3 separate regions of the Homo sapiens genome follow, and all the other regions are linked to region 1. Evidence: fine-mapped expression QTL. A gene starts in region 1. Each other region holds a variant in brackets. All regions are shown on one strand. Distances are from middle to middle.

Region 1 (9,781 bases):
CTCTGCGTCTCTGCCTCTGCCAGGCCCAACCAGGGGCCCCCTGAGAGGTTTAATGCCCACGGTAGTGGGGGGAGGGGGGAACAAGATAGTGGGGCTTCGTGACCCTGTGTTCTAGGGCCTGCCCTCCTGTCCCCTAGGTGGGCATGAAGCCCTGGCTGGCGACAGTCGATGGGGCGGACTCTGGACTCCTTATCTCCTGGCATTCCACCAGCCCACCAGCCTGGAGGTCAGAGAAGCCCCACTGCAGACACCCGGTGAGTCCCGGCTGGGCTGAGCAGCAGGTCCCTTCCCTGCTCACTCCCCAGCCTCCCATGTCTCCAGGGAGTCTGGAAAGAGTAAGAGACTCCTCCAGAAGAAACTAACACCCCCTCCCTCAATAAGCACAGGGACAAATGGCCCCTTCCTCTTCTAGTTTCCAAGCAAAGACTGGAGGTGTCAGCAATTTCATAATCACATTTAGGATCAAAAATAGAACCCTTCTTTGGTCTTCTCCATCAAGTCTCTTGGCCACTGGCAACCATGTGACTCGGGAATACCAATTCACCTCCCTGGATCCAGTTTCTTTCACTGTAAAATAAAGGTGCTGGACTCCAAGATCACCAAAGTCCCCTGCTCAACATTCCATGGTTGTGGGGCTCAGCAACATGGTGCAGCATTACCTTGGCCAGGTCAGGTGCAGGCAGGCTATTATCCTGACATAGTGGGGAGAGGGAGGTCCTGGTTCCCAGGCACGCACAATCTATTCACAACACTACTGTGTAAACCCCATGATTCTGCAAATGTTGGACAGGGATTGAGTTTCCTCTTGGAATAGTGCAGGGTGTGAGCAGGTAAGGAAGGAGGAAGAAGGTAAGCAGGGTTTAAAAACAGAACCAGTCCTGTGAGTGATATATACCCTACACACACGCACACGCACATGTGCACAGATGTGCACACACACACACAAGCACACACCCACCACCCAGGCACACACAGGCATTGTTACTCCTTCCTGGCTACCATCAGCCCAGAGAAGGAGCATTTCTTCTCTGAAGAAATCAGAGCAGCTCCCAGAACCAAAGGTAGAAAAAAGTTTGTTTTCCCTAAAATTGCCCAATTGATCTGTGGGACAATCCCTGGCAGGCCACAGAAAAGCGGCCTTCCCAGAAGGGCAGGGAAATTGCATCCATGTTGCCAAGGAAGAGATGAATCAACCCTACGCCTGGGCTCACACCATTCCTACAACCCAACCCAACTATCAGCCTCTGGGACCCCTAAATAACCCACTCCACCCCACAAAAATTATGACGATGAGAATGATGACAAGCAGCCCTCTACTATGTTCCAGGCAAAATCACGACATCCTGCAAGCTGGTGAGAACAGAAGTTAAGAAATTTCTCACTGCTGGAGAGTGACGGGGCCAGGAATTGAACAGAGACCCACCTATCTCAAAAGGCCAGAATTATTCCCGTCTTTCAAGGATGCCCGCTCTCTGAACTGAACTGTGCACAGTATGGAGGCTTCTCTTGTGTTGCTATCTTGTTCTTCACCCGTGGATGCTGTTTCTCCCCAAGAGTTTGCACTGGAAGGGTGGGGGCCAGGCCTTCTGCGTGCACCCGCCATGGTGGCCACTGCAGAGCCCAGCACAGACCAGGCAATGTACATCCACAGGCTAAGAGTCCCAGAGCCCAAAATTCTTACTCTGGCCTAAAATACAAGGCCAATGATGCAGCTGCTCCAGCCCCCAAGTCCTCAGGTCAGTGAGTTCCTCTAGCCTCTGCACTGGCTGGCCAGCTGTCAGTCAACACCTGGATCGAATCTCCCGCTCAGCACTGCCCTCCCTCAAGGCCCCAGAGGCCAGATGAGTAAAATATGATAAATTAAGCAAGAACCTGCTTTTGGCCTGGCCCTTTGGGAAGAGACAGTATCCAGAGGACCCCCTTCCACTGTCTGGTGCCCTCTAGTCTTACCTGCAAACCAACCCCAGCAAGAGGACCACTAGCCTATCTCCTGGCTACCACACAGGTAATGGAAAACTCACCTCTCTGAGCCTCCACCAGGAAAAGGAACATGTGGCTTTTAATTCCAGCTGCTAAGTTATGATTCTGGACATCCCTTCTCTTGCTTTACCAAGGATGTATATCCTTGGGGTGGCTCCATGGGGCTCTGGGGTCTGGACTTCGCTTTTCAGGAGCTGCGTCCCGGGGGATATGCATCCAAGGATGTATATGGACAAGTTCTTGTCCATATTTAGGACTTAGGTTTTAAGAGGTAAGGATAGGCCGGGCAGGGTGGCTCACGCCTGTAATCCCAGCACTCTGGAAGGCTGAGGTGGGCGGATCACGAGGTCAGGAGATCGAGACCATCCTGGCTAACACGGTGAAACCCCGTCTCTACTAAAAATACAAAAAATTAGCCGGGCATGGTGGCACGCGCCTGTAGTCCCAGCTACTCGGGAGGCTGAGGCAGGAGAGTCGCTTGAACCCGGGAGGCGGAGGTTGCAGTGAGCCGAGATCGCGCCACTGCACTCTTGCGTGGGCAACAGAGTGAGACTCCGTCTCAAATAAAATAAAATACAATAAAATAAAATAAAATAAAATAAAATAAAATAAAATAAAATAAAATAAAAGAGGGAAGGATTACGGAATTGTATATGCTGTGGTTAAGGAGATCTAGTCTGACCGTGGTACTGACCTGACCCTCCCAAGGTCACAGGGCCAGTTAAGAGCAGAGCAGGGACAGAGGCCAGGGCTAACTCCCAGGCCACTCCTCAGCAGGAGCACAGCCGTCCCAATGGCCTGGGGCTCCTAGGGGAGAGCCACTAAAGACGTAAACCCAAACCAGGCTTGCTCCAGGAAGAAGGGTCAGGTCAAAGCTGCTCCTAACCCCACGCTTCCATTCGGGCCACAAGAGAGCACTTAGCCACTCCCCAATTGTGTCCGGAGTCCTCCTGTACAGCCGAGCCCTTTAACTGTTTAGAGAAGCCTGTCTCTGGAACCCAGGCCCTGGCAAGCACCAGATCCTCAAAAGTGAACCCCTAGTCCAGAGCTGACGAAATTTTCCCGGCTCAACTGGACCTCAGGATCAGATGATGAAACTGCTCGGATGGCGACTTTGTCCCACTGCCCTCACCCACCAAGAGGGGGCAGCCTGAACCCGACCACCTAACTTGGTCATTAAGGACCAAAAATAGCCAGAAAGCCATCCTCGTGGGCAAGCCAGGTTGGAGATTCGCTCAGCCGGAAGATTGGGTACATGTACCTTCAGAGGGGAGATGGACCGGCGGGGGCCCGGGGACGCAGCTCCTGAAAAGCAAAGTCCAGACCCCAGAGCCCCATAGAGCCGCCCCAAGAGCCGCCCCTCGGATTGGCCACCTACTGTCTGCGTTCTGCGTCCGTGTCCGCGCGGGGAATCCGGGAGCCTGGCTCAGCCTTCGGCGCGGCGACCCACGCTCTGGGCACCCTTCTGCGGCTCTAGCATCCCGCACCCTCCAGGCGGACAGGCCGCGCCTTGACCTCTCCCCTCGCCAGCGCGGCACCACGGCCAGGTGCAGCCTCCACCCAGCCGTCCGGGCGTGTGCCGGTGCCCGGGAGCGGCGCCCGGTCCTCGGCGCAGGGCTGTCCCCGCCCCCACCCACTGCCCCAGCCTGGGGTGCGGGGCTCCTCCGCCGCTGCCCATCCCGCGGCCCTTGGCGTCCCCGCCCTCACCTGGCGCTCGGAGGCGGCCTCGGCCCCGCGCAGCCTCACCGCAAGGTCCCAGGCGGCCGGCGGCGGCAGAAGCAGCTTAGCCGGTGCGTCCGCGTAGACACGCGCGCCGACCCCCCTCACTGCGTCCGGGCCCCGGCACCGCGCGCATGCCCGGCTATATACCCGGCGCGTCAGCGGCCGGACCCGCCCCCGGCCCGCCCCGCTCGCCCCGGGGCTGCCACGTGGGGCCGGCAGGCTGGGGACCTGGCCAGCCTGCGCCCTCCTGCGCCTCGCGGCCCTGGCTGTGGTCGGCGCCCGCTCCCATCCTTCATCCGGCCGTGACTCCCGAGGACCCGCAGGCTCCTCCTGCCTCCGGAAACCTCCCGTGAAGACCTGCTCCCTGGGCGCGGGAAGCTCTCACCGCCTAGCCTCCACCCCACACCCCCTGGAGGAGAGTCCTACCCACTCTATTTGAATGTGATTTTACCACTTCTGGTTCACCCAAAAAGCTTTTCTCTTCCCTCCCCAGTTCGGAAAGGTACTTCAGAAGGGGACGCGCCCTTAGATGGTGTTTCTTCTGCATATTTCCACCAGCCAAAAGAACCAAAATTTCCTGGTCGAGTTCCAAATAAACCATATTATATTCACTTTTCAGACTTGATGCCGCACCGCTTCCCACAATGATCAGACGCCTAAAGAACCCTACTAACCCAAAGTTGGGAGAAATGTTAATTTGGGGGTGAAGAAGTTCCGAGGAGACTCTTCCTCTGTGGGACAGTCCCATTGAGATGTATATCAGGCCTGGGAAATGTAGTCGATTTCTTGAGAAAATAAACCACCCTTTCCACTCCCATTGTTCTGTTCTGCAGGACATCAGGACAATTTCCTCTATGAGCTGAACCCGCTGCCACCTGGGCCTTGGGGGGCTCGGAGGAAGGGCTTTCTAGCCCAACTGTCGCGGCTTAGTACTCGAGCTGATCCTAGCACAGTGACTGGTCCCCAGACGGCACTAGCTGTCTCTAAATTTGCGCAGGGAAGGGGGCAACATCCCACTCTCTGCAGGTCTTGCGGGGAGGACCCCCGTGATGGCGGCGCTAAGGAGAAAAGGAAAGCAGACAGTCGCTGGAGCCGGTAGCAAGAACTCAGGAGCTTGCTCTTCGCCAGGCCAGAGGGGGTCAGATTCTTCATATTACTTTTGAAGAGTGTAGCTGGGCCCCGGGCGTTTCTAAAATTCAATTATCCTCACCCCGTAATTACAGTGCTGCAGTGGGTATGGGGGCAGGGTGATATTCCTCTCATTTATTTTCCAAGTGATTTCAAAGTAATGATATCTCTTGCAGAATTTCCCTCAGAGCCCCTTCATCTTTGTAATAACCCTATTTCTCTCTTGGTTAAACTCGGTGCTTTCCAGACATTATGTCATCCGTTTGGGACTCTCATCCCACTGCAGTGGGCTGTGAGAAAGGGGCCAGTCCCCGCCACACCTTTTGTTGAAGCACTGGAAAAGGAGTGAGAAGCCCACCCAGAGATAAAGTGAAATAAGTATGCTTCCAACACACAGAGCTCTGAAGGGTATGAAGCCCGTAAACACATATCCTAATGGAGTGTTAAATCTCTTAAAACCAAAGCTGGAGAGCAATCCCATGGCTTTTCCAGGCAAGTTGTCAATACTGTCCACAGGAGAACTAGGCACCCTTCAAGGAGATTGCTCGGCAGAGAGGGGGCAGGACCAGACACCCCACCACCGGGCCTATCATGGCGTTCTCACTTGTTTTCAACCACACTAAAGGTGGAGCTGTCAAAGTCCACATAGGCAAGCAGAGCTGATAAGCTATCAGTAATCCATTAGGGAATACAATTAATTATTAACAAAAGGTCTTAACTCTCCATATCTACCCACACACAAAATTCTTTAGGCATCTCTTAAATCCTTCCTTGTTGCTGGGTAGTTCTCAGTTTCTCATTCCTGGTGCCAGGCTTGGAGGCCCACTTCTCTCTGCTCTCCACTTTTTTTTTTTTTTTTTTTTTTGAGACAGAGTCTCTGTAGCCCAGGCTGGAGTGCAGTGGTGCAATCTCGGTTCACTGTAACCTCCCCCTCCCAGGTTCAAGTGGTTCTCCTGCCACAGCCTCCTGAGTAGCTGGGATTACAGGAGCCCGCCACCCTGCCTGGCTAGTATTTGTATTTTTATTAGAGACAAGGTTTCACCATGTAGGCCAGGCTGATCTCCAACTCCAAGCTCAAATGATCTGCCCACCTCGGCCTCCCAAAGTGCTGAGATTACAGGCGTGAGCCACTGCGACCGGCCTCTGCTCTCCACTTTTTCCTCTCATTACCCATTTTCACTTGTCAAAATTCTAACTCTCCAAAGTCACCTCTCGCCTGCAAGCTTGTGGATTTTTCTGAAGCATGTTTGAACTACCCTTTCCTATTTTTGACTGTAACCCACATTAAAAACATTTAACACTGCAACTCCAATATAAGTAACAATACGGCAAACAAAAATTTCACAAAATATCCATAAAGATATGCATTGCAATGATATTTTGTTATAGTTCAATTTAAAAAAAAAAAAGTGATAACAAACCCACTAAGTTGACTTCATGACCATTATTAGGTTGTGATCCACAGAATTAAAACTTTATATGGTTTATGGTACTTATATTTTTTCCCTTAAAATTATTTCACTTTAATCTCCAACCTTATTAGACCTTAATCTGCCTTGATTACACGAGATTTCCCTATATACCTGTATCTCCTAAAGTAACATCTTGCATATAACAGAGTCTCAATAAATATTTGCTGGATGAATGAACGGGCTGGCTCACTAAAAGTTTGGTGTTGGGCAATATTTAAGGGAACTTAGCACAAAAATCTGACATTTTCATTGCTACTGTTTTCCTTCTGACAAGACACCATAGCTACCTGCCAAAAGATACATAGCCAGATCTCCCGTAGCTGAGGTGACTAGAACAGCCTTGGGAAATAAGCCAGAGAAATGAGATTCTAGCCCTGATTGTGCAGACAGTGGGCTGGGGACTCCAGATGAAAGCCCTCTGTGCGGTTTGTGGTGACAAGGTAAGCAACTTGACCACGTAGATGAGGTAAAATCCCTCTGCACCCCAGGTCTTAAGGCCAGCTTTTCATTTTTCTTTTTTTTGAGATGGAGTTTCACTCTTGTTGCCCAGGCTGGAGTGCAATGGCATGATCTTGGCTCACTGCAACCTCCACCTCCTGGGTTCAAATGATTCTCCTGCTTCAACCTCCCGAGTAGCTGTGAATACAGGGGCACGCCACCACGCCTGGCTAATTTTTGTATTTTTAGTAGAGAGGGGGTTTCGCCATGTTGACCAGGCTGGTCTCAAACTCCTGACCTCAGGCAATCCACCCACCTCGGCCTCCCAAAGGGCTGGGATTATAGGCGTGAGCCACCATGCTGGCCTTAGGCGCACTTTTCTTACAGTCTGTCTGGAGGTCAGTGACCAGATTTCTCTGGTGCTTTATTGGGAAAAAATGAATTTTCTGTTTTGGGATGGCTTAACAAATTTAAGAGGATTGGAAGGAATGTGAAGGTTCTATTCAACCCGAAATCATGTCAGAGGGCTCAAGTACTAGCTCCCTACATTGTCAGCTGAAAGAGAAGAGCTTTAGAGGCCTCAATTGTTCATTTCTGTTGTCATCTGATGGTTTTGACACACAAAAAAAGACAACTGGGAAAAATACTTTGTTTAGTAAGCTATAGAAATCTGTGCATTTTAGCTAAGTTGTCTAATTTTTTGGCAAACAACTGTTCATAGTATTCCCTTACAGTATCTTTTCTTTATTCCCTGTAAGTTTGGTAGTAATGTGCCCTCTTTCATTCCTGATTTTAGTAATTTGTGTCTTTTTTCTCTGTCATTCTAGTTAAAGGTTTGCCCATTTTGCTAATATTTTCAAAGAACCAACTTGTTTTGTTGATTTTCTCTATTGGTTTTCTGTTCTTCATTAATTTCTGTCCTGATCTTTATTTTTAAAATATTATTTTTGCCCTCACCTGTGAATGAGTGTTTAGTTGGGAATACAATTCTAACTTTACAGTTGCATCTTTTTTTTTTTCTTGAGACGGAGTCTCGCTGTGTTACCCAGGCTGGAGTGCAGTGGTGCAATCTCGGCTCACTGCGACCTCTGCCTCCTGGGTTCAAGTGATTCTTCTGCCTCAGCCTCCTGAATAGCTGGGATTACAGGTGCACGCCACCACGCCTGGCTAATTTTTGTATTTTTAGTAGAGACGGGGTTTCACCATGTTGGCCAGGCTGGTCTCAAACTCCTGACCTCAGGTGATCTGCCCACCTTGGCCTCCCAAAGTGCTGGGATTACAGGCATGTGCCACTGCGCCTGGCCTACGATTGCGTTTTAAAATTTCTATTCCTCTTGTCTTAAGGCATCTATTGTGGTTCAGGAAGTGTGTGCTGGTGGTTTGACTAACTTTCTTTGTAAGCAATCTCTTCAACTTCTGGTTGGTTTTGTTTAATTGACAAATAGTAATTGTACATATTTATGGGGTACAATGTGATGTCTGGATACCTGTACACATTGTGAAATGATCAGATCTGGGTAATTAGCATATCTATCATCTCAAATATATATATATGTATATAATATATACATATTCTTTTTTGCCTTGTCTTTGTCAGGCTATTCCTTTTTTTAAAAAAATCATTCCTTTGTAGTGGGAACATTTAAAATTCTTTTCACTATTTTAAAATATACAGTATTAACTATAGTCACCATACTGTGCAACGGAACACTAGAACTTATTCTTCCTAACTGTAACTTTATACCCATTGACCAATGTCTCCCCTTTTCCCTGTCAACCTCCCTCTACCCCCACCGTGTATCTGGCAACTCCCTTTCTATTCTCTACTTCTATGTTTGACTTTCTTAGATTCTACATACAAGTGAGATCATATGGTATTTGTCTCTCTATGCCTGGCTTATTTCACTTAACATAATGTTCTCTAAGTTCATTCAGGTTGTCATGAGTGACAGAATGTCCTGTTTTTGATTTAAAGCTGAATAGTATCCATTGTGTAAATGTACCACATTTTAAAAATCCATTCATCCGTTGATGGGCACTCAGGTTGTTTCCATATCTTGGCTATTGTGAACAGTGCTGCAATGAACATGTGAGTGCACATATCTCTTTGGCATACTGATTTCTTTCTTTTTGGAGACAGAGACTCGCTCTGTCACCCAGGCTGAAGTGCAGTGACACCATCTCGGCTCATTGCAACCTCTGCCTCCAGGGTTCAAGCGATTCTCATGCCTCAGCCACCCGAATAGCTGGGATTACAGGCGTGCAACACCGCGCCCAGCTAATTTTTGTATTTTTAGTAGAGACAGGTTTTCACCAGGTTGGCCAAGCTGGTTTGGAACTCCTGGCCTCCAGTGATCCACCCTTCTTGGCCTCCCAAAGTGCTGGGATTGCAGGTGTGAACCACCATGCCCCGCCCAGCATACTGATTTCAATTCCTTTGGGTATATACCCAGTAGTGGAATTGCTGGATCATATCTGGCTGTTTTGTTTTCACGATTCTGTCTTTCATGTTCTATAGTTTCACTATAGTTTATCTAGCAATGGATATGCTTTTCTTTTATTTTTTTGAGATGGAGTTTTGCTCTTGTTGCCTGGGCTGGAGTGCAATGGTGCAATCTTGGCTCACCATAACCTCCGCCTCCCGGGTACAAGCAATTCTCCTGCCTCAGCCTCCCGAGTAGCTGGGATTACAGGCATGCGCCACCACGCCTGGCTAATTTTGTATTTTTAGTAGAGACGGGGTTTCTCCATGTTGGTCAGGCTGGTCTCGAACTCCTGACCTCAGGTGATCTGCCCACCACGGCCTCCCAAAGTGCTGGAATTACAGGCGTGAGCCACTGCGCCCGGCCAGATATATTTTCTTTATCCCCAGTACGTTTCTTCAGTTAGACGATTCTTTTTCTTTCTTTTTTTTTTTTGAGATAAGGTCTCATTCTGTCACCCAGGCTGGAGTGCGGTGGTGCGATCACAGCTCACTGCATCCCCAACCTCCTGGCCTCAAGTGATCGTCCCACCTCAGCCTCCTGAATACCTGGGATACA
Region 2 (11,564 bases), 150 kb before region 1:
GTGCTGAGATTACAGGCATGAGCCACTGTGCCTGGCCAGGACTGTGATGTTAAAAGTTTGCTAAAGAAATAATCAAGAACAAAACCAGGTTAGATTGAGACAAAAAACAAGCTAGCAGTGAGTGAGCTGTATAGTGCCTGCTGACTTAGGTGGCGTGTTTCAGCTTGGCACACTGATAAATCCATTGAGCAATCAATAGATACTCTTTTTGATGAAGTTAAAAAAGAAAGTGAGAAAGAAACACCTTCATTACAAATAGGAGATCTAGGGCCACAAGAGTCCTTGAAGACGTTTAACAACACAAACAGTCCACACCATTGATAAGAGAATAAATAAGAATAAAACCTAAGTTGCTAATATACTGGAAATATCAGGAAAAAGGAAATAACAAATGAACTTAGGGAGAAGCAGAGCATTGTAGGACAGATAAGGCTCAGAGAAGAATGCTAAGTTAAATGAAAACATAAGACTAGGACAGAACTTAAGTTAAAGACATGCTTTTTAAAATAGACAAGTCACTGGAGGACACACTAAAATGACTGACCCAAATCGGATTTAAATGAGATGTGCCATTCCATGGTTTACTTTTAAATAGAGTAAATATTAATTATATTTTGGCCATCTTTGAAACTTATCTCCCCAACTGCATATACAAGGTATAACTATAAAGTAATGAGACTTAAGAAACCACCAGCTACAAACACACCAGACCTTTTTATCAGATGAGTGTGGTCCTTTGATATTATCACATCAGGTACAATAACAGTAAAATCTGTATTATTATAGTAATTTATATTTTGAACAACACTTTAATATCCATTTTCCTTATTCCAACTTATCTTCAACAACCCCATATGACAGATATTTTAAAGATGAGGCTCAGAGAAGTATCTTGTTAAATGTGACACACTTAAAAGTGAAGCAGGACTAGACTGACTCCTTGCTTTGTGTTCTTTTCAGCACAACTTGTTGCCTTACCATATAATTAATCCAGAGATGCTGCCATTACTCAAAACGTTTTTGGAACTCCTCTTTTGGAAGTGCCTCCAGAGCCACTGTATCAGCAACACGAGAAAAACCAGTCTCATTACCTTATAATCATACCTTGTTTCTGACCCCAAATGGTATCATCTAGCTTGATCACTCACCTTATTTATCAGTCTTGACTCCGAATGACTTTTGGCTGTCCAAAAATCAAATCCACCCTCAAAGGACGAAGATTTCCCATCATTGAGGATAATCAAAAGAATGTGTCGCAGACTCTGAAGGCAATGCCAAAAGAGGAGTTCCAAAAATGTTTTTGAACAAGGACAGCATTGTTGGAATAGGTGTGTAGCCTCCCAAGGTAACTACTTTGAAGGGACAATACTCATTTGGATATGTTTGTTCTGGCATGTTTATTTTCAAAGTCCTATTAATTTATAGTCATACTTTATAAACAACAAAATAGTTACAGAAATATGAAGTTTTTAGTAGGACCACTGCCTCGATAGAAAACTTATAAACTATTAATCATAAAAGTTTTAAATTAAAAAAAAGACTTTAACAGGATAAAGTCTTAGAAGTAAAATTTCTGGAACAAAAGGCATGTATATATCCATTCTTCTTTTTTCATATGGGAAACTGAAGATTAGAAAGATAATGTGACTCACTCAAAGTCACAGTATTCGTTTCTGGCAGGGTTTAAACTAAAAATGAAGGTTTTTTTTTGACTTTGTACACTAGGTCACTCTACCTAGACCATATCTCAAGAAAAACAAAAATAGTTTAATAATTCACAAAGATTAAAATACCAATGGTGACTTTGAGATACTGTTATAAACACATTAAATTCACCAAAACCAATAATTTATGCTAACTATTCTGGCATGAGCCTGAAGCAATTTATTCTTCTTATACTTTGATTCTGTAGTATCAATCTGACCTATTATGATCATTATTTATACTCACAAAGAAGCCAGTAATCCTTAGGAGATAAAGACCAAGCAGCAGCATAAATTCTAAATTTCTTGGCCTTTGTTTCAACTAAGACCCCTTTTTTTCTTATTTAAAATTTATGTTTTAAAATGACACAAACACACATACGTACATACAATTAAACCAGAGCTCACGTTTACTCATAAATTCAAACTCAAATATTGCTGGATTCCTTTACCTTTATTGTTATAGACATCTAGGTAATTGGGGGCAGAGAAAATTGTAATAAGTGATGGAAAGCCTGTGGCTTGGCTCTTCCTGTACATTCGATACCTGAAAAAGAGATGAAAGTCCATCTGTCTGCATATTAAATGCAAAGACTCTGCAGCGATATTTGGTACAATTTTAATGTAACTTACCCAGCATCTTGGGCTTCATGGGCTCTGATAATTGATAGTAAATTATTGTTCTGCAAAAATTCACAAACTGCAGGGTAACTGGAAAAGAAAATTAGAAAACATAAATCCAGAATTAAAACAATTTTTTTTAATAGGAAGATGGGGAAAAGTCAAGGTGATATTAGCTGATTTTGTTTCAAAACTACAAGTATTACACACTACTGAAATTTTATGAATAGCTTAGTACTCATCATTCTGTTTCTCTATTTCACTAATATACTTCACTACAGATCAAACATGAAAACAATAGATAATCCTACAATAGAAAGAGCTCCTCCATCTCATCTTTTAATTTTTTTGTCTTAATCCATAACAATACAACACCAAAACTTTTATCAGTGTCTTGATATTACAAAGTACAACAGTAGTGTGTGTGTGTGTGTGTGTGTGCGTGTGTGTGTAGTAGATGCTAAAAATTCAACACATACTTTTCTTCAATTGTCAAATTGTTACAGAAATAAAAGAATATACTTACAGCTTCACAGGTAATATAAACACCAAGATAATATTATGCAGGAATACATATATACATATATATGTATATATATAGGTTTGTTTTTTTTTTTGAGACGGAGTCTTGCTCTGTCGCCCAGGCTGGAGTGCAGTGGTGCAATCTCGGCTCACTGCAAGCTTATGCAGGAATATTTTAGGAGCAGATGTAAATATTTTAGCCAACCATATTCTAAAAAAAGATACAATATTCTCATATACTCCTAAAATATTCTTTTCATACTATTACCTCTCTGAATGACAAATACCTGATAGGAAGAACTGGAGTATACAAAATTAACCTGGAATTACTTAGGCATTAATTATTTAGTTTATTTTTAAAATCTTTGTTTCTCATTATGCTCATTAGAACAAATTTACTTTTAAAGTAGGTTGTAGGTGACGTAAGCAAGATAGCAAAAGAGAATGTCCCCAGCCCTGGTCCTCCTACAGAAACAATAGTTTGGAAGCCATCCATGGCCATAAGTGCCATTGTAAGAACCTTAGGATTGAGGTAGGTGGTTATGAAACCTTGGTGGAGCCCAAGACTAGGAAGGGCTGCTTGGAGAAGGCAGGCCCACTGACCTTTCAGCTACAGACCCAGAATCAGCCTGTCCCTTGTAAACCCGGCTCCAGTCCCACTTGTCTGCAGTCCTACCACCAGCCTCATCCATCCTGGGAAGGAACCATGTCTGTTGATGCCCCTAGTAACAGATCCACCAACCAGACCCAACTGCAGACTCAAAGCAGCACTCTGACCTGGCTCCAGCCCTGCTCTACTGTGGCCAAGAGGAAGTCCTGCCTTAACAGGGGCCTTGTGGAAATCATGCCTGTCCATTCCTCTGGTAAAAGGGCTGCTGATTGGACCCAAACATAAACCCAAACCAGCCTGGGACCCAGCTTGGGTCCCACCCTATTGAGTTCCAGAGACAGCTCTCCCCATCCATGGGACATACTTGTCCATGCCCCTAGTGGTACGCCCACTGACTGTGAACCCTAATGTAGCCCCATAATCTAGCTTCAGCCCTGCTTAATCACAATACCACAGGCAATCCCATCAACCCAGGGACTCAATAGGAGAAGGTATTTACTTGGCGAACGAGTCCATAAAAACTGGAAGGCCCCTGCTCCTTCAAATGCATAGACTCCATTGCAAGGCTATATGAATTATAAAGAACCAGGCAAAAATGACACCACCAAAGGAAACTAATAAACCTCTAGTAACTGGCCCTAAATAAATAGAGATGTATGAATTGCATGACAAAGAATCCAAAATAATCATCTTAAAGAAGCTCAATGAACTACAACTAAACAAAATCAGGAAAGCAAATAAATGAATAAAGAGAGATGTTTAATAAAGAAACAGAAACCATAAAAAAGAAGCAAATAGAAATCCTGGAGCTGAAGAATACAATGACTCAACTGAAAAGCTCAAGAGACAGCTTCAACAGCAGACTCAGGCAGAAGAAAAGAACTGGGAAACTTAAAAGACAGGTCATTTGAAATGATAGCATTAGAGGGACAAAAAGAAAAAAGAATAAAAAAGAATGTGGAAAGTATACAGGACTTATGGGACAACATCAAGTGAAAATAATACAGGCATATGGGAGTTAAGGAGAAGAAAAAGGGGCAGAAAGCTTCTTATTTTTAAAAACTAAAGGCTAACAGTTTAACAAATCTAGGGAGGAAAAGGGACATTTCAATTCATGAAGCCCAAAGGTCTCCAAATAAGTTAAACACCAAGACTCATTATAATTAAGTTGTTAAAACTCAAAAAGAAAAAATCTGAAAGCAGCAAGAGAAAACCTACTTGTCATATAATATACAAGGAAGCTTCTATAAGACTATCAGTGAATTTCTCAGCTGAAACCTTGCAGGCCAGGAAAGCGGGAGATAATATATTCAAAGTACTAAAAGAAAGAAAAAAAAACCTGCCAACCAGGAATACTTTACTCATCAAAATTGCCCTTTAAGAATGAAGGAGAGATAAAGACTTTTCCAGACAAACAAAAACTGGAGTTTGTCATGACTACACCAGCCTTATGAGAGCAACTAAAGGAAGTTCAAGTAGAAACTAAAAGATGCAGCTGGCCACAGTGGCT[C/T]GTGCCTGTAATCCCAGCACTCTGGGAAGCTGAGGAAGGCAGATCACTTGAGGCCAGGAGTTAGAGACCAGCCTGGCCAACATGGTGAAACCCCATCTCTACTAAAAATATAAAAAATTAGCCAGGTGTGGTGGTGTGTGCCTGTAGTCCCAGCTACTCAGGAGGCTGAGGTAGGAGAATCACTTGAACCCGGGAGGCAGAGGCTGCAGTGAGCCAAGATCGCACCACTGCACTCCAGCCTAGGTGACAGAGCAAGACCCTGTCTCAAAAATAAAGTAAAACCTGAAATTAATTACATTAGGTGTGTGAATGGGGACTAAAGTGTAGAGTTTCTATACGTCATTGAAAGTAATTTCTTCTCAGCGTAAGACAGAGTGCTATAACTATAAAATGTTTGATGCAAACCCGATGAACAAAAAAGCACAGTAGATACACAAAAGATAAAAAGAACCAAAATACCCCACTACAAAAATAAAAATCAAATCACAAAGAGAAAAAGAGAGGAATAGTAGAACCACAAAACAGAAAGCAACCAACAAAATGGTAATAGTAAGTCCTTACCTATCAATCATTACTTTAACTCTCAAATCAAAAGATATAGTATGAGTGAATGGATGAAAACAAGACCCAACTACATGCTGTCTACAAAAGACTCACTTTAGATTTAAAGACACACATAAGCTGAAAGTAAAAGGGTAGAGAAAGGTATTCCATGCAAGTAAGTAACCGGAAGAGAACATGAGTGGCTAAACTTTTATCAGACAAAATAAACTTTAAGTCAGAAATCATCACAAGAGGGAACAAAAGTCATTATATAATGATAAAAGGGTCAATACAACAGAAAGATGTAACAATTATAAATATATATGTGCCCAACATCAAAGCACCTAAATATATAAAGCAACAACAGATCTGAAGGCAAACATTGACAGTAATAAAATAATAGCAAGTAGGACGGGCACAGTGGCTCACACCTGTAATCCCAGCACTTTGGGAGGCTGAGGTGGGTGGATCACCTGAGGTCAGGAGTTCGAAACCAGCCTGGCCAACATGGTGAAACTCCGTCTCTACTAAAAATACAAAAATTAGCTGGGCGTGATGGTGCATGCCTGTAATCCCAGCTACTTGGGAGGCTGAGGCAGGAGAATTGCTTGAACCCAGGAAGCGGAGGTTGCAGTGAGCCGAGGTCGCGCCACTATACTCCAGCCTGGGCGACAGAGCGAGACTCCATCTCAAAATAATAATAATAATAGCAAGTAACTTCAATACATCATTCTCTGTAATGGATAAATCATCCAGTCAGAAATCAATAAGCAAACAACAGAACTGAACAACACTATGAACCCAATGGACCTAATACGCATATACAAAACTTTTTGCCAAATAACAGAAGAATAGAATTCTTCCCAAGTGTACACAGAATATTCTTTAGGCTATATAATCACAAAGAAGTATCAACAAACTTAAGAAGATGTAAATCGTCCTAAGTATCTTTTCCCACCATAATGGAATGAAACTAGAAATCAATAACTTAAGAAAACAGGAAAATTCACAAATACATAGAAACTACACACCACACTTTTGAACAACTATTGTGTCAAAGAGGAAATCAAAAAGGAATTTTAAAATTATCTCTAGATAGGTCAGGAGTTCGAGACCAGCCTAAGCAACACAGCAAGACCTCATCTCCTCTAAAAATTTTAAAAACAATTAGCTGGGCATGGCGGTACATCCTGTAGTCCCAGCTACTCAGGAGGCTGAGGCAGGAGGACTGCTTGAGCCCAGGAGTTCAAGGTTGCAGTGAGGTATCATTGTGCCACTGCATTGAGCCTGGGTGACAGAGCAAAACATCCTATCTAAAAAAAAAAAAACCTCAAGATAAATGAAAACAAAAATATACATATCAAAATGTATGGGATGCAGCAAAAGCAGTACCTACAGGAAAGTTTATAGTAATAAATGCCGATTTAAAAAACAAAAAAGATCTGAATTAAACAACCTTATTTTACACTTCAAGAAACTAGAAAAAGGAGAATCAAATAAGCCCAAAGTAAGCAGAAGAAAGGAAAGTTTAGGGCAGAAATGAATCAAATAGAGAATAGAAAAACAACAGAAAAAAGTCAACAAAACTAAGAGTTGGTTTTTGAAAAACTAAACAAAATTGACAAACCCTTAGCAAGACTAAGAAAAAAAGAGATACTCAAATAAATAAAACAAAAAATGAAAGAGGAGACATTACAATAGATGCCTCAGAAATAAAAGGGATCATAACGGACTATTACGAATAATCACACACCAAAACACTGGAAAACCCAGAAGAAATGGATAGAGTCTGGAAATATACAACCTGCCAAAACTGAATCATGAAGAAATAGAAAGCCCAAACAGACCAATAGCAAATATGGAGATGGAATCAGTAATCAAACAGCTCTCAACAAAGAAAAGCACAGGACCAGATGGTTTCATGGGTGAATTCTATTAATCATTAAAAAAAAGAATTAATACCAATCTTTCTTAAACCTTCCAAAAAATAGAAGAGAGAATTCTTCCAAACTCACATTATGAGGCCAGCATCACTCTGATACCAAAGCCAAAGACACCAGAAGAAAGAAAAGTACAGGTGAGTATCTCTGATGAACATAGATTTTTAAATCCTCCATAAAACACTAGAAAGCCAAACTCAACAACATACTAAAAGTATTATATACTGTGGCTAAATGGGATTTATCCCTGGGATAAAAGAAGGCAGAGTATCACTTTGTTCAGCCTCAGCTGGGAACATGTGTGCTGGGTGAGTCAAATTTTTTATCTCATTATTCCCAGTAGCTACATTCTATAATGTTGCTGCAAAAACAGAATTAGCAAATAATGAAACACTACTGCTAAGGGAAATACAGGGTGAAGTTCCTGTGAGGCTCCGGTCATAACATTTTCACCCACCAATTAATATATAACCTTGTTTCAGATGTGTTTCTGTGTAATAATACTTTAGGTCATTTACACTGTTGATTCATTAACATTGAACTCATGGCCAAAACCACCATAACTCATGCCTAAACAAAGCTTATATCTAACACTCGCATATTTTCTCTGTAAGACATACCACAGCCTTTTTGTGCTTAGGGACCCTAGACAGCAGCACTTCAGCACTACACTTGGTGGCCATTCTAAACAGTGAAATCACTCATGAAAAGCACAAAAACATAAAACATCTTTCACTAAATAAAACTCAAAAGAATGCCTGTTTACAACATGAGGGCTGCAAAAAGAAGGTAGGGCATCATTTTGTTCAACCTCAGCTAGGAACATGTGAGTGAGGTGACTCAAATTTTTTGTTGCATTGCACACTACATTCCCATGAATGATTATGAAACCTCTGTAAGTACTGATTTGGGTGTTACAAATACATCTTAGTAAGTGGGGGAATTCACAAATATGAAATCCACAAGTAATGAGAATCAATTATATATCTACAGGATTAAGTTTTAGAAGTAGAATTTCTGGATCAAAGGCCATGTACAAATACCTTTGAAAGATATTGCCAAGTTGATGTCCACAGAAATTGTACCAATTTCTATTCTGACAACAATGAATATGTATTATGCTCTTTATTTTAAGCAATGTAAAAAGAAATAAAAGTTAAATGATTTCATCACATTAGTCACTGGAAAAGTTGGCATGGAGGAATGAAAAATGGTTGTTGGCTGGGTGGGGCTCATCCCTGTAATCCCAGCACTTTGGGAGGCCAAGTAGGGAGGGTCACTTGAGTCTAGGACTTCAAGACCAGCCTGGGCAAAACAGCCAAGACCTTGTTTCTACAGAAAATAAAAAAAGCAGCTGGGCATGGTGGCACATGCCCATAGTTCCAGCTACTCAGGAGGCTGAGGCAAGAGGACTGCTTGAGTCCAGAAGGTTGAGGCTGTAGTGAGCTGTTATGGTGCCACTGCACTCCAGCCCGGGTAACAAAGAGAGACCTTGTCTCAAAATAAAATAAAATAAAATAAAATAAAATAAAATAAAATAAAGAAGAAGAAAGAAAAAAAGACTTTTTACTATCCATCTGACAAGAGATTAATAACCAGAATATGTAAGGAGCTCAAACAATTCAATAGGAAAAATCCAATAATCCAATTTAAAAATGAGCAAAATATCTGAATAGACATTTCTTAAAAGGAGACATAAAATGGCAAACAGGTATATGAAAAGGTATTCAATATCACCGATCATCAGAGAAATGCAAATCAAAACTTCAATGAGATATCATCTCACCCAGTTAAAATGACTTTTATCCAAAAGACAGGCAATGACAAATGCTGGTGAGGATGTCGAGAAAAGGGAACCCTCATATCCTATTGGTGGGAATGTTTAGTACACTACTATGGAGAACAGTTTGGAGTTCCTCAAAAAAACTAAAAACAGAACTACCATGTAATTCAGCAATCTCACTACTATGTATGTATATAAAAGAAAGGAAATCAGTATATTGAAGAGACATCTGCACTTTCATGTTTATTGCAGCACTGTTCACAATAGCCAAGATTTGGAAGCAACCTAAGTGTCTATTAACAGATGAAAGGACAAAGAAAATGTGGTACATATACACAGTGGAATATTATTCAGCCATTGAAAAGAATGAGATCCTGTCATTTGCAACAACATGAATGGAACTGGAGGTCATTATGTTAACTGAAATAAGCCAGGCACAGGAAGACAAACTTCACACGTTCTCACTTATTTGTAGGAGCTAAAAATTAAAACAACTGAACTCATGGAGATGAGAGTAGAATGATGGTTACCAGAGGCTGGGAAGGGTAGTAAGAGGGGAAATGGGATAGTTAATGGGTCGAAAAAAACAGTCAGAAAGAATGAATAAGACCTAGTATTTGATACTGTGAGATTTAAACAACAGGGTGACTATAGTGAATAATAATTTAATTGTAAATTTTAAAATAACTAGAAGAGGCCGGCCACAGTGGCTCATGCCTGTAATCCCAGCACTTTGGGAGGCTGAGGTGGGTGGATCACTTGAGGTTAGGAGTTCCAAACTAGCCTGGCCAACATGGTGAAACCCCATCTCTAAAAAACACAAAAATTAGCCAGGCATGGTGGTAGGTGCCTGTAATCCCAGTACTCAGGAGGCTGAGGCAGGAGAATTGCTTGAACCTGGGAAGTGGAGGATGCGGTGAGCTGAGATCACACCAGCCTGGGTGACCGAGCAAGACTCCGTCTCAAAAAAGGAAAAAAAAAAAAAAAGGTGAAAAAAAAAACAACAAAAAATAAAATAAATAAAAGAGTAATAATTGGATTGTTTGTAACACAAAGGATAAATGCTTGAGGTGATGGATAACTCATTTACCTTGATGTGATTATTATACATTGTATGACTATATCAAAATATCTCATATAACCCATAAATATATATACCTACTATGTACCCACAAAAATTTTAAAAAATATTTTTTTAAAGAAAAAAAGGTTGTTTAGAAGAATGCTAAAAGTAATGGCGAAATCAAAGTTTCATGTGTGTGTGCATGTGTGTATTCTAATGAACACATTATCTTAGCCAATTAACAGAGATTTTTAGGGAAATAAACATATGTATTATTTGCCACAATAAAATACTGGGATTAAAAATAATTTAGATTTCCAACTTCTCTTATGTCTTCCTTTTTTTTTTTTTTTTTTTTTTTGGAGACAGAGTCTTGCTCTGTTGCACAGGTTGGTGTGTAGTGGCACAATCTTGGCTCACTGCAACCTACACCTCCCAGGTTCAAGTGATTCTCTTGCCTGAAGTCTCCCAATTAGCTGGGATTACAGGCGTGTTGCCACCACATCTGGCTAATTTTTTTATTTTTAGCAGAGATGGGGTTTTGCCATGTTGGCCAGGCTGGTCTCGAACTCCTGGCCTTAAGTGATCCGCCCGCCTAGGCACCCCAAAGAGCTGGGATTATAGGCGTGAGCCACCACGCCCTGCCTGTCTTCCTATTTTTGAGTGTCTAATCATAATGAAAGCTCCTGTGAAATTTAAAACAACAGCCAACTTCCAGGAAATGTACTGGGCTTAGTTCACAATGTCCTGTTCTTTTTATATCTTAGTCTATACTAGTGGTTACAAAATTTGGAGAGCTTTTGAAAATACAATAGGATTCCTCTCAGACCTAGTGTATTAGAATCTCTGGGGAAAGAGCCAAGAAAGCTTTAATTTTTTTTAAAAAAGTGTATAGATAATGTTTAGGAACAAATAGTCTAGATCACTTAGAGTCAGACAAAAATATCAGAGCACTGCAGGATGTCCAATCATGTTTGGTGTATTACACTTCTTAGGATATATACCTAAGAAAATATAAAAAGCCAACAAACAAACAAGTTTCTTGCCTCCTATTAATCGAAAAATTAAACAGGAGTGCTTATACTACATAGATTTGAAATATAAAATGCTGAAAAATCATCTGATAAAATGAATTACAGTTTCCTTTCATAATTTTCGACCTCAAGGACTAGCTTACCTGTAGAAATAAGAGCACCCTCGGACAGTGTTGTGGGTATAGTGCTCCAAGGTCTTCTCATTGCCATAATCCTCTGAGGGATCAGACCAAAG
Region 3 (11,564 bases), 91 kb before region 1:
GATGACTACAGACTTGCATGATTTTGTCCTTTATTCTCTTGGCATTTTCTTCTCTCTCCACTGTTGTAAGATTTTAGGCTGCTAACAGATAACTTTTCCTTACTGTTAGCACTATCAAGATGCTTATCCTTGGCAAAATATAAACCAAATATGGGACAGTTGCAAAGGTGAATGACCCATATCCAAATTAAAGGAAAAAAAATATATTTGGTTGCCCAAAGGAAAATCCAAATAGATTATGGGATATATGGGACATTATTTTAAACTTTAATAATAACTGTCTGAGTTTCAGTGTGTTGCAGATGCCAAGTGTGTGATCTTTAGAGTCTTAAATGCTGCTGTGCAGCCACTGTCACACCAGCTGATTCAACAAATTATCATCTAAGAAAAAGAACATCGAGGCCATCCTGGCTAACATGGTGAAACCCCGTCCCTACTAAAAATACAAAAATTAGCCTGGCATGGTGGCGGGTGCCTGTAGTCCCAGCTACTCAGGAGGCTGAGGCAGGAGAATGGTGTGAACTCAGGAGGCGGAGCTTGCAGTGAGCCGAGATCGTGCCACCGCACTCCAGCCTGGGCAACAGAGCAAGACTCCGTCTCAAAAAAAAAAAAAGAAAAAAGAAAAAAAAGAACAAAATGGCCTGGTGCCTGTAGAGGCCAAAATGTCTACCATCAAAGCTTTATAAACATTCACAACCCATCAAACGACAGTTTGAAATCTTGATTGATCACCTCCCCTAAATGGTAAATGTTCCAGTTTAGCGGACGAATGATCAGAAACAGAGATTAAAAAGTGAAACAAAACTGAAATTACACTACAAATTGCTTGCAGATGCACAGAAAAGCACTTAGTACTTGCAAAACAGATAAACTGAACCAAACCAAACCGCAATGTACTGTGCATCACAGGCCATCTAAGCTCAAACCTTATTTTTTTTCTTTTTAAGAGAGAGGGTCTCCCTCTGTCACCCAGGCTGGGGTGCAGTGGCATGATCATAGCTCACTGCAGTCTCCAACTCTTGAGTTCAAGTGATCCTCCCCCTCAGCCTCCCAAGTACCTAAGACTACAGGTGTGTGCCACCACACTCAGTTAATTTTAATTTTAAAAAAATTTTTTTAAAGACTGAGGTCTCACTAAGTTAAACAGGCTAGTCTCAAACTCCTGGCCTCATGCGATCCTCCCATCCTAGACTCCCAATGCACTGGGATTAAAGGTGTGAGCCACTGTGCCCAGCCTCAAACCTTTATTAATATCAGCTCACTCATACCCGTATGTTCTAGTACCACAAACTGATCTAACAGTAAATCCTCAGGGACTTATGTGTCCTAGAGGCAAAACTACTGGCTGTTCCAGCAACTCACTCAAATTACATATTCTAGCCAATCCCTGCCCAGACTACTACCTTTATCCTAACATTACTCTGTGACTAACAGCTCCTAAAATCCTGTATGTCCTCTTTCCTAACTCTATCCTTTTGAGAGGTCCCACAGCTCTTCTGATGTATGTTATTCCTTCCTGCAGCAAGCTAAATCAGTGTAACTTATTTTTGACTACAGATGTTTTCTTGGTGGTCTTTGGTGGTGAGATTTAACAGTCCCATGGCAGGAAACTGGTGGCTGACAGTTAGGAATAGGAAGACTTTTTACCACATACCTTTTAAAATGTTATGCCATGTTATTCTACTATTTACTTAAAAAATACATAGAATTAGACTTTAGAGATGTATATAATACTATCATAAATTAATCGACCAACAGTAATATTACCAACATCCAATACTGCTGGAACTTACCCAGGAATCAGAGTGTTTTGGATATCAGCAGACAGGAAAATTCACCACCTGCTTCTACAATTCTAGAAAACCAGCCAGCAGTTAGGGGTGGTAATTAGCTTCATATCTAATGTAAACAAACTTTTATTATACTGTGTATTTATACTAAAAATCAAGTTTAAAAACCCCTTATCATTAAAAACAAACTTCATATGTGGAACTATGTTTGCTAAATATGGCTCACAAAGTGCTGTAAATAAAGTAAAGATTTTCAGCTGGGTGCGGTGGCTCACGCCTGTAATCCTAGCACTTTGGGAGGCCAAGGTGGGCGGATAACAAGGTCAGGAGTTCGTGACCAGCCTGGCCAATATGGTGAAATCCTGTTTCTATTAAAAACACAAAAATTAGCCGGGCATGGTGGTAGACACCTGTAGTTCCAGCTACTCGGGAGGCTAAGGCAGGAGAATCACTTGAACCTGGGAGGTGGAGGTTGCAGTGAGCCGAGATCACACCACTGCACTCCAGCCTGGGCAACTGAGCAAGACTCTATCTCAAAAAATAAATAAATAAAGTAAAGATTTTCTTTTTTCATTTTTAGACACAGGGTCTCTCACTCTGTCACTCAGGCTGGATGGTGTGCAGCTGCTTGATCATGCCTCACGGTAGCCTCGAACTCCTCAAGCAATCCTCTCACCTCAGCTTCCAGAGTAGCTGGGACTTCAGATATGCACCATGACACCTGACTAATTTTTAAATTTTCTGTAGAGACAGGTGTCATCATGTTGCCCAGGCTGGTCTCAAACTCCTGGCTTCAAGCAGTTCTCCCACCTCAGCCTCCCAAAGTGCCAGGTTTACAGATGTGAGCCATTGCACCTGGACTAAAATAAAGGTTTTCATGCTATTTTTTAAAGTTTCGAAAGTTTTGGCCTGGGAATGGTGGCTCATGCTTGTAATCTCAATGCTACAGGGGGCCAAGATGGGAAAATCACTTGAGGACAGGAGTTTGAGACCAGCCTGGGCAACATAGCGAGACTCCACCTCAAAACACACACTCACACACAAAAAATTCTTTGAAATTTTCAAGCACAGAATTTACAAAAATAGAATAGGAAAGTATTATCCATGTAGTATCAAGTATTGATTGTAAACATTCTGCTAATCTTTCAAACTATCCTATCTTTATTTAAAGATTTTTATAAATCAAAGATACTATACACTTGAGGCAAAACAATTTTTTAAAAGAGCACAAAACAAAAAACAATAACCACCACAAAAACAAAACTCTTAGAATCTCACCAGCCAAAGACAACTACTGTTAAGATGTCAGTATATATCTTAATATTTTAAATATGTAAATACATTATTTTATAATCAGTTATACTATATAGACAATCTTCTAATGTTTTCTTAATTTAGTAGTAAACTCCACTAATGCAGTATAGATATTTTCTCCCATTCTGTGGCTTGCCTCTTCATTTTCTTAAACATCTTTAGAAGAACAATTTTTCAAAAGTCCAATTGTCAGCGTTTATGGTTCATGCCTTCTATGACCTATCTAAGAAAATAGTCTACCCCAAAGTCACAAAGATTTTTCCTATACTTTCTTTTAGAAATTTATAAAAACTTCACCTCCCCAAGACCATACCTCCTAATACCATTACATTGGGGATTAGGATTTCAACATACAAATTCTGGGGGGTCACAAACATTCAGACAATAGCATTAAATAATCTCTTGTACTTCTTCTTAATACATATATCAAAGTAATATGACATGAACTAGAATGAAAATAATCTCTGAGAGGTCACTAAAGTTTAAGTCCAACCAACAATGTAGGCATAACATGTGACAAATAATACTCACATGCAAGATACTCTCTCATGAAAATGAAAGTATTTTACACAATTCTAGATAAACCACCTATAAGTTTATCTCTTTAAACACACACACACACACACACATAACAAAGTGATAATAATGAAGTGGTTATTAGTGGGAACCATGAATCTACTCTAATCTTACATACAAGATCATTCAAAAACTTCAGGACTTCAAATATTGTTAGTTACAAATTATAACACATATTTCACACATGGATTGCACTAAAGAAAAGTAAGAAATTTGCAGCTCTGTATTAAAAAGAGAATAGAGATTTAAAAAATAACAAATCACTAAAATGGTCTGGGCACAGTGGCATGTGCCTGTAATTCCAGCTACTTGGGAGGTGTAGGTGGAGGCGGAACGATCACTTGGGCCCAGGAGTTCCAGGCTGCAGTGAGCTATGACTGCACCACTATACTCCAGCCTGGGCAGCAGTGCTAGACTCTGTCTCAGAAAAAAAAAAAAAATTACAAATGTATATTTCTGGTGTCAACTTCAATATGTGAAACACATAATGCCACGTGCTACTAACACTTCTTCATAACAATGAAACATTTTATTCATATCATTCTACTTATAGTTGCTGACTTCCTTAATTTGATTTAAAAGCAGCAAACTTTGAAGAAATTCATTGACCACAATTAACACTCTTTTCTCAATAATAAGAGGTAGGAAAGACTGTGTATAAAATCATCAACTCCTCTGGTTTCTCCAACACCAGTTGGGGAGATTTACAATTCAAATCGAATTATCCAGTATCCTCCTTTGAAACACTGAAAGAGTGTACATTACCAACTGAAAAACAAAACATTCCATAACTAAATATATCTAAGTTTCTATAGGTAGCCTTCCTAAAATCCTAGCTAGTAGTGATATATATATATTTTTATTTTACTTTATTTTATTTATTTATTTTTATTTTTATTTTTATTTTTTTTGAGACGGTGTCTCGCTCTGTTGCCCAGGCTGGAATGCAGTGGCATGATCTCAGCTCACTGCAACCTCTGCCTCTCAGGTTCAAGCAATTCTCCTGTCTCAGCCTCCCAAGTAGCTAGGATTACAGTTGAGAACCACCACGGCCAGCTAATTTTTGTATTCTTAGTAGAGACAAGGTTTCACCATGTTGGTCAGGCTGATCTCAAATTCCTGACCTCAAGCAATCCGCCTGCCTCGGCCTCCCAAAGTGCTAGGATTACAGGCGTGAGCCACCGAGCCCAGCTGATATTTGTTAATAGTGAAGTTCTAAAATTTGTATCAAAGAGCTAGAAGGATTCTTTGAGTAACGTTTGAAAGTGCTAGGGAAAAAATACTAGAGCAGTAATTATATTCTAGTTAAATAACTAAATGTTTATCTGGTACCTACTACATGCTCACATTGTATGGGTAATGTGTGAAATATACAAGTTGTTTTTGTGTGTTTTTTTTGTTTTTTTTGTTTTTTGGTGCGACGGAGATTTACTCTTGTTGCCCAGGCTGGAGTGCAATGGCACGATCTCGGCTCACTGCATCCTCTGCCTCCCAGGTTCAAGCGGTTCTCCTGCCTCAGCCTCCTGAGTAGCTGGGATTACAGGCATGTGCCACCACGCCTGGCTAATTTTGTATTTTTAGTAGAGACGGGGTTTCACCGTGTTGCCCAGGCTGATCTCGAACTCCTGACCTCAGGTGATCCGCCCGCCTTGGCCTCCCAAAGTGCTGGGATTACAGGCGTAAGCCACTGCGCCCGGCCGAAATATACAAGTTTAACACATTTATTCTACCTTGAAGAATCATATGCTCTAGTTGAGTAGAATTCGCATAAAACAAGATATAAACACAGAATAGTTAAGCAGTACATTGTATGGTTCAGACTGTAAGTACGGAAGATTATAAAGGGGGAAATCAACGATAGCTACAGAAATCAATTAAGTGTATGAGAAAGTTGAGACTTGGGCTGGGTGCAGTGGCTCATGCCTGTAATTCCAGAACTTTGGGAGGATGAAGCAGATGGATCGCTTGAGGCCTGGAGTTCAAGAGCAGCCTGGCCAACATCGTGAAACCCTCCCTATCTCTACTAAAAACCACAAAAATTAGTCGGGCATGGTGGTGTGCACCTGTAGTCCCAGCTACTCCAGAGGCTGAGGCAGGAGAATCACTTGAACCTAGGAGGCGGAGGTTGCAGTGAGCCGAGATCCAGCCTTGGAAAAAAAATTCTTAAAAATAAATAAATAAATAAATGAAGATGGGACTTGGGCTGGGTCTTTCAGAAGTTCCAAAGCCACTTCCACACTTTTAGGTGTTTGTTACAGCAGCACTCTATTCTTGGTACCAAAATAAATAGAAGGTATACTAAAAGGAAGAAAGGAGAAAATTTCAGATATATATGTAATATGCTGTATATTTTTAACGAAATATTTCAATATTACAGAATATTGAGAGAGGGGAAGGGATGGAGGGGGAAGGAGGGAAGGAAGGAGGGAGGGAAGGAGGGAGGGAGGGAGGGAGGGGAAGGAAGGGAGGGAGGAAGGGAGGAAGGGAGGAAGGGAGGGAGGGAGGGAGGGAGGGAGGGAGGGAGGAAATAAATCACAGCTGAGAATCATTCTAAGCCTATGCATCCAAGAAGTCTTTCAGTGTTCCCAAATCTAGCTTTTTACCATGTGTCAGCTGCTTTCAGATTACCTGTATTTCATTAAAAATTATTTAACAATGCTTCCAAATCAGAAGCAAAAACCTTAATCAAACCAGGTTTGCACATGATTAAAAACAATAGCCAAACTATAAAACTGAGTTTCCCGTGGAGAAGGGGGACTGGTGTAGCTATACAGGGGAA[G/T]TAACTAAATCTTGTGGTTACGGTACTGTTGAGTACCCTTATTGTGCTGGTAGTTATGCTACCTATATGTGAAATTGTGTAAAGCTAAACACACATACACAGACAGGAATGCATGTATAACTGGTGAAATCTGAACAAGCTCTATGGACTGTACCAATGTCAATTTCCTGGTTTTGGTATACTACTGTGTGTGGTGGTGTGGGATACTGACACGGGCAAAGAGAGGGAAGGGAGTTAGGGGAGAGGTGTTTGGGACCTCCCTTTACATTTCTTTATTTACAACCTCCTGTGAATCTATAATTATCAAAATAAAAATTAAATAAATTTTGAAAAACTAAGTTCCTAAAGTACACTCAAGAAATTCTGCAACCTTTTCAAGATCAGATTCTGTATGCTACTACAATATACATTGACTACATAAACAATATGTATTTTCAGGTAAACACAAGTAAAATCTGATGTAGATCTGCATAAATGAGAAACAGCCACATGGGTTGACCTGCGGTGAGTATGAAACATAAACCTTAAAGGTTATTGGCCTATAAGCTATTATTTTTAGATTATTGTGGTAGTCTTATCCTCATGGGACACTAGGATTTGCCTAAATAGCTATGTCTGTTCACTGCTTTCACTCCTATTTTAAGCCAGCAGTCCTGCCCTACTTTTTCAGACTCATTTCCTAATCTACTCACCTGCCTTGCCAATCATGAACACGCACTGCTAAATAAGTTACATTAAATATTATTACCAAAAGTATTATGTGCCCTTTCAACTGTTCCTCACCAGAACAAGTGACTTTAGTTCCATGATCTGATCAGCTTCTTTGAGATTATTCCTCTGGTCTTTGATAGTCACAGAACTCACTTTCAAAGTATTAGCTAAAAACTGGCCCTCCTAGAACCAACTAAGTAATAATAGTCACAGAACTCACTTTCAAAGTATTAGCTAAAAACTGGCCCTCCTAGAACCAACTAAGTAATAATAGTCACAGAACTCACTTTCAAAGTATTAGCTAAAAACTGGCCCTCCTAGAACCAACTAAGTAATAACCACCACCAGTCACAGTCAACAGAAACAATAACTTCTATAGTGGCATATGTTTTCCATAAAGCAGTGCAAAGTAGTTAAAAATAACCAACTTGCTTCCATGGAGAAGCCCACCAACTATCTTTATTACTCCAGCCATTCATTAAAATCACTCTATTTTAAACTTCCACAAAGCCTTAGGTCACAAGAAAAAAACATACGTAGGCACACACATAAAAAAACACAAAAGTCTTACCTCTTCAGGCCACTAGTCACAGTCAGATTAAACATTAAAGGATTATCAATTTATAGATCAAGGGAACAAACATTTCACACCAGGTATTGTCTACAATTTAGTCACCTGCTCCTTTTGCAGTGGGATTAGTCATAGGTCACTATATAGTTCTAAATTTCTGTGACATTTTTGAGAGGCTATTATATGCTACACCGCATGAGTACTTTTCAAGTAGTATTTAACCCTTCTAAGCATAACCAGAAATGTGCTCCATGTAATAGGAACTCATCAAATATTTATGAATACATCACTTCCAAAATTCTATCTATACTATAGAAAAGGAAAATTTCATCATTTTTCTTCTTAAGCATTTTAGGTTTAAGTCCTTTCTTTCTTTTTTTTTTTTTTTTTTTGAGATGGAGTCTCACTCTGTCGCCCAGGCTGGAGTGCAGTGGCGCAATCTCGGCTCACTGCAAGCTCTGCCTCCCGGGTTCATGCCATTCTCCTGCCTTAGCCTCCCGAGTAGCTGGGACTACAGGTGTCCACCACCGCGCCCGGCTAATTTTTTGTATTTTTAGTAGAGATGGGGTTTCACCGTGGTCTCGATCTCCTGAACTCATGATCCACCCGCCTCGGCCTCCCAAAGTGCTGGGATTACAGGCGTGAGCCACCGCGCCCAGCCTTAAATCCTTTCAATATCTAAGACTAAAGTTAGAAAACAGTCATGTGCCACATAGCAATATTTCAGTCTACAAGACTATATATATATGACAGAGATCCTGTAAGATTATAATGGAGCTGAAAAGTTTCTATCACCTAGTGATGTTTTCACCTGTCTTAACATCACGGCATAAGGCACTACTACTCACATTTGTGGTACTGCCGGTGTAAACAAACCTACTGCACTGCCAGTCATATAACGATAACAAATATGTTACTGGCTTATACATTCACTATACCACCCTTTTAATCATTACTTTAGAGTATACTCCTTCTACTTATTCAAAAAACAAAAACAACAAAAAAAAGGTAACTGTAAAACAGCCCCAGACAGGTCCTTCAGGAAGTATTCCATGAGAAGGCATTGTTGTCATAGGAGGTGACTGCTCCATGCCTGTTAATTCCCCTGAAGACCTTCCAGTGGGACAGGAGGTGGAGGTAGAAGACAGTGACATTGATCATCCTGACTCTCTGGAGGCCTCAGCTAATGTATGTGGTGTGTGTTCATTTTTAACAAAAAAGTTTTAAAAATAAGAAATGTTTGAAATCGTAAAAGCTTATAAGAATAAGGATATGAAAGAAAATATGTACAGCTATATGTGTTTGTGTTTTAAGCTAAGTATGAGTACAAGAGTTAAAAAGTTTAAAAATTTTTAAGTTTATAAAGTAAAAGTTACAGTAAGCTAAGGCTAATTTACTATTGAAGAAAAATATTTTATAAATTTAGCATAGCCTAAGTGTGCAGTGTTTGTAAAGCCTGCGGTGTTCTACAGTAATGCCCTAGGCCTTCACATTCACTCACCACATACTCCCTGACTCACCCAGAGCAATTTCCAGTCCTGCAAGCCCTATTCATGTTAAGTGCCCTCCACAGGTGGACCATTTTTTATCTTTAATACTGTACTTTTACTGTACCTTTTCTAGGTTTAGATATGTTTAGATACCCAAAGACTTACTGTTGTGTTACAGTTGCCTACAGTATTAAATAGAGTAACATGCTGCACAGGTTTGTAGATTAGGAGCAATAGGCTATATACCATACAGCCTAGGTGTGTAACATCTACGTTTGTAGATATATATAACATCTAGGTTTGTATAAGTATGGTTAACTCAAACAACATGGGTTTGAACTGCACTGGTTCACTTATATGCAAATGTTTTCAACCAAACACAGGCTGCAAAACCCCATCCTGCAAATACAGAGGGCCAACTTTTTGAATTCTCAGGTTCCACAGGGCCAACTTCTGGACTTGAATATTCAGGGATTTTGGTATATGTGGGGGTCCTGGAACTAAGCTCTCACATATACCAAGGGATAACTGTACACTATACAATGTTTGCATAATGATGAAATCGCCTAAGGATGCATTTGTCAGAACTCCGAATTATTAAGCAACTATGTAAGCGTGACTATATAAAATACAGTACTCTTAAATCTTCATTTCACATGTCACTTAAAGTAAAATAGATCTACTGTCAAATCTCGCCAAGATCCAAGATTGATTTATTTTTTAAATAATAGCTAACATTTATTAACCACCCACTATGGGCATTATGCTAAGCACTTTACATACAATATGAGATGTAATCTTTAAATTCTGAGGTAGGCACTATCTCCCATTTTACACCTGTGGCAAGGAAAATAAATAACAAAGCTCAAAGGCCACACGGCTGGTAATCAGCAGAGTCTGTACTCTTTCTTACACTGTCATCCATAAAATAAGCTTCTTATGCTTGCACATACTTAAATATTTACTAAGCACCTAAGCGTGTGTTAAGCACTGCATTCAGCATTAAGGATACAGTGGTTGCCCTTAAAGAGAGGAGTTTATTGTGAAGAAAGGACAAGAAAATATTTAAAGCGATTTGCAAAGCAATGAGATTGTTTATGGGAGCTCATAGGAGACAGTAATTCTTATGATGATGATGATGATAGCGATGGCGGCAGCAGCACCTACCATAACATATATGGAGTACTCACTATGTGCTTGCCACTGCAAGTTTCATTATCCCTCTTCTACACATAAAGAAATGCAGGTAAAACAAGTGTAAGTGATTTATCTAAGGTCATGCATCACTAAAAGAATTTGAGCTGGGCATAGTAGCACATGCTTGTAGTGCCAGGCATGAGAATGAGGCAAGAGAATCACTTGAGCCCAGGAGTTTGAGGCTGCAGTGAGCTATGATGGTGCCACTGCACTTCTTCAGCCGGCTAACAGAGCAAGACTCCATCTCCTTGAAAAAAAAAACAAACAGAAATTTGAATCCAGGTATGTCTGACTGAAGCCCATGTTCTCAAACCATTACTCTCCACAGCTTCTTAGCAGAGAAGAAAAAGCTTCTCAGAAGTCCCCTTGGCTAAATCTTGAAAAACAAACAGGAGCTGGTCAAGCTGAGGGACAAGATTCTACGCAGGGCCAGGCACAGTGGCTCATGCCTGTAATCCCAGCTCTCTGGGAGGTGGGAGGAACACTTGAGGCCAGGAGTTTGAGACCAGGCTGGGCAACATAGCAAGACCCTGTCACTACAAAAAAGTAATAAAAATAAAACATTTAGCCAGACATGGCAGCACACGCCTGTAGTCCCAGCTACTCAGAGGGATGAGGCAGGACGATCAATTGAGGCCAGGAGTTTGTTTGAGGCCACAGTGAGCATTGATCGCATTACTGCACTCCAGCCTAGACAACAGAGTGAGGCCTTATCTCTAAAACTGTTAAAAAAAAAAAAAACCATTATGCACAGAAGCAAAGAGCCCATTCACAGATATAAAACATTCTAGGACGACAAGTATGACTTCTTATTCAAAGTGCTTAGGACCAGAAGCATTTCAATTTCAGATTGTTTCAGATTTGGGAATATTTGCATATACATAATGAGATGTGTTGGGAATGGAACCCAAGTCCAAACACAAAATTCATTTATGTTTCATATACACAGAATGTGAAGATAATTTTATAAATATTTTTAATAATTTTGTGCACAAAATAAATTTGCGTACACTGAATTAGAAAGCAAATGTGTCACTACCCTTAGCCACCTACGTGGTCAATCTGTGGTTGCCTGGACATCACCATCATGCTGTGCATGGAAAAGATATATCACAACCGAAGGGGGCTGGGAGGGT

Evidence for each region. PIP is the estimated chance that this variant, and not a neighbour inherited with it, causes the effect.
Region 2: its variant is fine-mapped to the expression of SLC39A14 in T cells (TOPMed, PIP 0.97).
Region 3: its variant is fine-mapped to the expression of SLC39A14 in whole blood (TOPMed, PIP above 0.99).

The regions. Positions count from the first base shown.
Region 1 is chr8:22,361,315-22,371,095 of GRCh38, reverse strand. SLC39A14 (solute carrier family 39 member 14) reads right to left here and starts at 3,818. Exons shown (of 9, transcript NM_001128431.4): 1 at 3,688-3,818. RefSeq lists silencers at 2,400-2,578, 3,504-4,173 and enhancers at 2,934-3,183, 4,719-5,219.
Region 2 is chr8:22,513,341-22,524,904 of GRCh38, reverse strand. It overlaps PPP3CC (protein phosphatase 3 catalytic subunit gamma), which reads right to left. Exons shown (of 14, transcript NM_005605.5): 6 at 11,473-11,564; 7 at 2,337-2,414; 8 at 2,156-2,250. All of the region lies in intron 1 of LOC124901905 (a long non-coding RNA gene), which reads left to right. Among named protein-coding and RNA genes, the nearest start is that of SORBS3, 33 kb to the left of the region's middle. The variant C/T (reference allele first, on the strand shown) is at 4,967.
Region 3 is chr8:22,451,625-22,463,188 of GRCh38, reverse strand. All of the region lies in intron 1 of PPP3CC (protein phosphatase 3 catalytic subunit gamma), which reads right to left. Among named protein-coding and RNA genes, the nearest start is that of PPP3CC, 16 kb to the right of the region's middle. The variant G/T (reference allele first, on the strand shown) is at 6,460.